Linked DNA regions of Homo sapiens: region 2 is linked to region 1. Evidence: fine-mapped expression QTL. A gene starts in region 1. The other region holds a variant in brackets. All regions are shown on one strand. Distances are from middle to middle. Region 1 holds the start of KCTD15 (potassium channel tetramerization domain containing 15). Region 2 has its middle 32 kb from the start of KCTD15.

What was found. PIP is the estimated chance that this variant, and not a neighbour inherited with it, causes the effect. A credible set is the group of variants that fine-mapping cannot tell apart.
Region 2: its variant is the best candidate, but not a certain one, in a credible set for the expression of KCTD15 in blood mononuclear cells (TOPMed, PIP 0.52).

The regions. Positions count from the first base shown.
Region 1 is chr19:33,795,505-33,798,404 of GRCh38, reverse strand. It overlaps KCTD15 (potassium channel tetramerization domain containing 15), which reads right to left and starts at 1,535. Exons shown (of 7, transcript NM_001129994.2): 1 at 1,418-1,535. RefSeq lists a silencer at 2,837-2,900.
Region 2 is chr19:33,827,483-33,830,382 of GRCh38, reverse strand. No RefSeq gene overlaps it. Among named protein-coding and RNA genes, the nearest start is that of KCTD15, 32 kb to the right of the region's middle. The variant T/A (reference allele first, on the strand shown) is at 1,827.

The sequences.
Region 1 (2,900 bases):
GCTCATTTACACACAAAATGATTTTGTGTCCCATTGCGCTCGCAGTTGTTCGGCTCTCTGGGGGTGATTAAACTGGCTGAGCTGCGGCAGCTTGAGACGATTTCACTAAATCGCTTCTTCTGAAGTCGCTTCTTTGCTAAGCTGTTATTTTAACCATAAAAGGTAAACAGAAGGCGCCTCTCGAGCTCCCCTCGGCTCCGCACTCAGGGCGCTGGCCCGGGGCGAAAGTCCTGGGGGCCTGCACAATTGTCCCAGGGGTGGCCCCGGAGAGGCAGGCGGGCCACCTGGTGCGCGCCAGCCTCCCCACCCCCCCCCTCCCGCCTCCGCCGCGGAGCCAGCCGGCCGGTGTGAACTTAGGGGCGACGGGAGAGGGCTTGGGCCAAGGCTGGAGGCGCCGCGGGGCGGGGTGGCCGCGGCACCCGAAGCGCGGGGCTGGGCTGGGAGGGGTTGCCGCGGAGGCGGGGCGGGGACAAAGTTAAATCAAGAGGCAGACACTTGGAGACCACAGATGGGAAGCTCGCCTAATTAAGGACGTAAAAGCGCTTTTGTTCTCAAAGTTTATTGTTGCCGGGATTAAAAAAAAATTAATTGAAACTAATGCTGTTATTCACTCGTGCAGTTAAATTCCTTCATGCACATTTGAGATACGGAGCGAAAACTTGAAGCTTATCTTTCTGCAGTCGCGGGTGGGGGCCGCCGGAAGACAGAAAGGCGCTGCAGAGGCGGGGGTCCGCCCCCGGGTGTGTTTGCGAGTGTGTGCCGGGTGCGCGCGTCCAGGTCAGGGGGTGCGGGCGGGCAGCGGGGAACCGGATCTGCAGGCGGCGATCCCTCCCATCGCGGCCCCTCTCCCAGCCCCAAACCCTGCGCGCCCGGGACCACCACCAGCGCGACAGCCCCTCCTGCCAGGTTTCGGACTCGTGGGGTGGGCGTCAGAGGACGCACATCTGTCCCACTGGAGACTTTCTCTGATTTTGGGCGCCAAGCCGGGACTTGTGCATCCCGAAGCCCCAGTTGCGTGAGCCCGTTTCTGACCCCGGAAACTCGCCAGCTCTGCAGGGCGCTCGGCCCAGAACAGGGGCCAGAGTGCGGGGACCTCCACAAGCGCGCGCGCGCGCGCGCGCACACACACACACACACACACACACACACACACACACCGCGCGGCAGGAAGCTCCGAGACCGCCCGCGTGGGGAGGGTCCACCCGCGGCCAGGACCAGCCCACGTGGGCAACCCCACTCTTGCACCAGGCCTTTGTGCTGGGCACCCCCGCGCCGCCAGCCCCCGCCGCCCAGCAGAGGGACAAAGCGGCCGCCCCCGCCCAGGTCCAGACCCTGGCCGGGCGACTTTCTCGGTATCGCAGCCACTTCGGGGCAGGGTTGCGCGGCTCTGAGCGGTGGCCGCCCGCGCTGAGCTTACCTCGGAGCCGGCAGATCGGGCTCGGGCGCAGCCCCCGCCCCACGCAGCTGCCGGTCTCGGGCGCCGGGCGCAGCTTCGCCGCCTATGCTCGCTGCGCGGGTCGCTCCGGTCTCGTCCTGGAGTTACTTTCTCTCTCGCCCCCAACCCTCCCCCCACCCACCCCTCCCGCCCCGGCCCCCGCTTCACGCGGCCCCTCGCGGCGCGGCGCGCCGGGGCCTCCCCTCCCCACCCTCCCCTCGCCTCCTCCCCTCTTCGCGGCCGCCGCCTCCGCCGCCGCCGCCTCCTCCTCGCGCCGCTCTCCGGCTGCCCTCCCGCCGCTCCCACCTCCTCTCCTCCCTCCTCTCTCTCCGGCGGCCTCCCTCGATTGCTGGAGAGAAAACCAGCCCCCCACTCCAGCCCCTAGCCAGCGCCTCGCCGCGGCCCAGCCCGGACGTAAAGGGCAGCGATCCGGCCCCAAATTACCCAGCGCGAACGGGCGCGCGCGGCGACTCCTGGCTCGGGGCTCGGCTGCGCCGCGGGGCAGAGGATTAGAGTCGCAATTAGCTCCGCGCGCCCGCGCCTGGCGACAAAAACGCGCCGTTTCCCCTCCTTTCGCCGGGCGATCCCCACCCGCCTCTCCCGAAGCCCGCGCCTTCCCGCCGGGGCCGCGGCCAGGACCCTCCCGGGAGCGGTGCGCCCAGGCCCCAGCGCCCTCCGCGGCCCAGCCCCCCGCCCCCCGCCGGCCGGCCACGCGGCGCCCGGGCCTCCTCCGGGCTCGGGGAGGGGGCGGGGGAGAGGCTGATTTTAATCATTGTCATTTCATCTGATGTAATATTTCCCCGGGCGCTTTCAGCTGGGCATAAATTTTCGGCTCCCAAATAAGTAACACAGGGCACGTTTCTCACATTTCTTGACTCCTCGGTTACAAAGAGGAGAGCAGCCGCCGCCGCGGCGCCCGGGGCTGGGGGCGGGACTTGGGAAGAAACTGGGCTGCCAGTCGGTCGGGGCTGGAGCGGAGCCGGGGGCCAGGCCGCCCCTCCCCCGCTCCCTGGCCGCCCTCCCAGGGTCTCTGCCCCGCTGCCCCTCTCCCGTGACGTCTGCGGACACGCGGTCGGCCGCCGCGGGGGAGGGACGCGCTGGGGCACCGGGCCGACCGCTCGCGGCTAGACGCGCCATTTCCTTTACGCGCGCGGCGCGATGGAGACGGCGGCAGCCAAGACTCCCCGCGGCCGAGGTCCGCGCCCCGGACGCCCCTCCCCAGTCTCCGCTTCGGCCGCCCCTTCCTCCTTTTCTCCCACTCCCACTCCTCCTCCCCTTCCTCTTCCTCCTGTTTCCTTTGCGCCCCGCCCGTGCCTCCTCCTCCTCCTCGGCGACCATTTCCCGGCTCCTAGGAAACGGAGCGCGCGACTGGCCGGCACTGCGCCCCCGCCTGGCTCCAGGGACGCCCGGGCCGGAGACCGGCTGGGACCGCGGGGCGGGTGCGCACGGGCCGGAACGGCGCCTG
Region 2 (2,900 bases), 32 kb before region 1:
CACAAGCTATTTTGGGGGTGAAGGGGCATCATGTCAGTAACAATATGAAATGGTTCATCAAAAAATAGTATTGGGCTGGGTGCAGTGGCTCACGCCTGTAGTCTTAGCACTTTAGGAGGCCAAGGCAGGAGGCTTGCTTGAGCCCAGGAGTTTGAGACCAGCATGGGTGACAGAGCGAGACTCCATCTCAAAAAAAGAAAAAAAAAAGAAGTTTTGCTTCCTCCAATATTGATAATAAAAAATCACAATTTTGGATCAATCACTCTAGAGGAAATGCAAAATTGCTTTTCTATTCTCTCTATAAAAACATATATTATTGTTGCTATTTGAAGAAGTGATCAGGGTAGACAGCTAAATTATGTAGGAAGCGTGTTACATCAGCCAGTTGATTAATAATATAGGAATGAAATACTAATATGGTATTGTTCTGAATTTTGTGATGTTCATAGTATTTTATTATTTTATTTTTTAGAGCTAGAGTCCTGCTGTGTCACCTAGGCTAGAGTGCAGTGGCATGATCAACAATTCACTGCAGCCTTGACCTTCTGGGCTCAAGGGATCTTCCCTACTTGGCCTCCAGAATAGCTGGGACTACAGGCATGCACCACCATTTCTAGCTAAATTTTGCTACGTTGCCCAGGCTGGTCTTGAACTCCTGGGCTCAACAATCCTCCTGCCTTGGCCTCCCAAAGTGCTGGGATTACAGGCATGAGCCACCATGCCTGGCCATTTTGTGGTATTTTAAATTTGTATTATGTTGTGACTTTTCTCATTCTAAATAAATACTTTTGTTCATGGTAAAACCAAACAAAACAGTTTTGTACTGTCCTTGCAAATTTTTTTGGTAAATTTGTGATTGTTTCAAAATACACCAAAATTAATTAAAAATATTTTATCAGATAATTTTCCATCAAGTGTGGTCCATTCTTGCTTCCATTTCTCTCCTGTTCTCTCTTTCCTCCCACCCTGCGGTCACTCCTTCTCCAAACCCTCTGCTGCACCCTTCTTCCCTCTCCCAGCTTCCAAACACCGAGTGCCCGGGGCTCATCCTGGAAACCTCTTCTTTTTTTTTTTTTTTAATGTGTGTGTGTGTGTGTGTGTGTGTGTGTGTGTTTTGAGATGGAGTCTTGCTGTGCTGCTCAGGCTGGAGTGCACTGGTACGATCTCGGCTCACTGCAGCCTCCGCCTCCTAGGTTCAAGAGATTCTCCTGCCTCAGCCTCTTACGTAGCTGGGATTACAGGTGCCCGCCACCATGGCAAGCTAATTTTTGCATTTTTAGTAGAGACAGGGTTTCACCATGTTGGTCAGGCTGGTCTCGAACTCCTGACCTCAAGACATCTGCCCGCCTCATCCTCCCAAAGTGCTGGGATTATAGGCGTGAGCCACCGCGCCCAGCCAGTCTCTTCTCTTTTGACACTTACTGCCTTGGAGACCTTATCCAGTCTTGGCTTTGAATGCTGTCTAACTTGTGAGGACCCTCCAACGTACACCTGCAGCCTGGACTCCCTCCTGAGTTCCCAAGTACCTGCCTGTCTCCCAGCCCAGCTTTGTCAGTCCTGTGCTTAACAGGCATCTCAACAGCCTGCCCCATCTGCCCAACACCATCAATCTTCTCATCCCAGCAAAAGGCAACTCCATCCTTCCTTTGCTCAGGCCAACCCCCTTGTAGCCACCCTAGACACCTCACTGCCTCCCACATTTCACATCTAAGCAGGCATCAAGTTATGTTGGCTCCTCCTTCCAAGTGTACCCAGGATGGAACTGCCTCTCCCTACTCCCACGTCTCTCACCCTGCTCCAGGCCACCTTCAGCTCGCTCTGAAGGA[T/A]CATGGTCGCATCCAACTGGTTTCCCTGCTCCTCCCCAGCCCCCTTCAGTCTATTTCCCTCCTCTGCTCACCACTGGGCAGTGGCCACTGCTCTCAAGCTCAGGAAAAGCCCAAGTCCTGGCCTGGCGCAGTGGCTCACGCCTGTAATCCCAGCGCTTTGGGAGGCCAGGAGTTCCAGACCATCCTGGCTAACACGGTGAAACTCCATCTCTACTAAAAATACAAGTAATTAGCCAGGCATGCTGGCATGTGCCTGTAGTCCCAGCTACTGGGGAGGCTGAGGCAGGAGAATCAGTTGAACCCGGGAGGCAGAGGTTGCAGTGAGCCGAGATCATGCCACTGCACTCCAGCCTGGGAGACAGAGCGAGACTCCGTCTCAAAATAAAAATAAAAATAGAAGCCCAAGTCCCAATCACGGTTCATGGCAGTGTTTTAGATTGGGATGCTCCAGAAGCTGATGCCGAGACAAGACCTTGAACGCAGCATTCACTGGGAGGTGATTCCTGGTATATAGGAAGAGAGAGAGGGAAGTAAGACAGGGCAAGGAAGGAAGCCAAGAGAGGGAAGGCTAGTAAGGGAGCTACTTGTCTGGGCACGGCAGCTCATGCCTGTAATCCCAGCGCTTTGGGAGGCTGAAGTGGGAGGACCACTTGAGGCCAGGAGTTTGAGACCAGCCTGGGCAACATAGAAAGGCACCTCCACCTCTGCAAAAATAAAAATTGGCCAGGCACAATGGCTCATGCCTGTAATCCCAGCACTTTGGGAGGCAGAGGCTGACAGATCACTTGAGGTCAGGAGTTTGAGATGAGCCTGGTCAATGAGTAGAGATGGCAAAACTCCATCTCTACTAAAAATACAAAAATTAGCCGGGTGTGGTGGTGCACATCTGTAATCCCAGCTACTTGAGAAGCTGAGACACGAGAATCGTTTGAACCCGGGAGGTGGAGGTTGCAGTGAGCTGAGATCGTGCCACTGTATTCTAGCCTGGGCAACAGAGCAAGACTAGGTCTCAATAAATAAATAAATAAATAAATAAATAAATAAATAAATAAATAAATATAAAAAATTACCCAG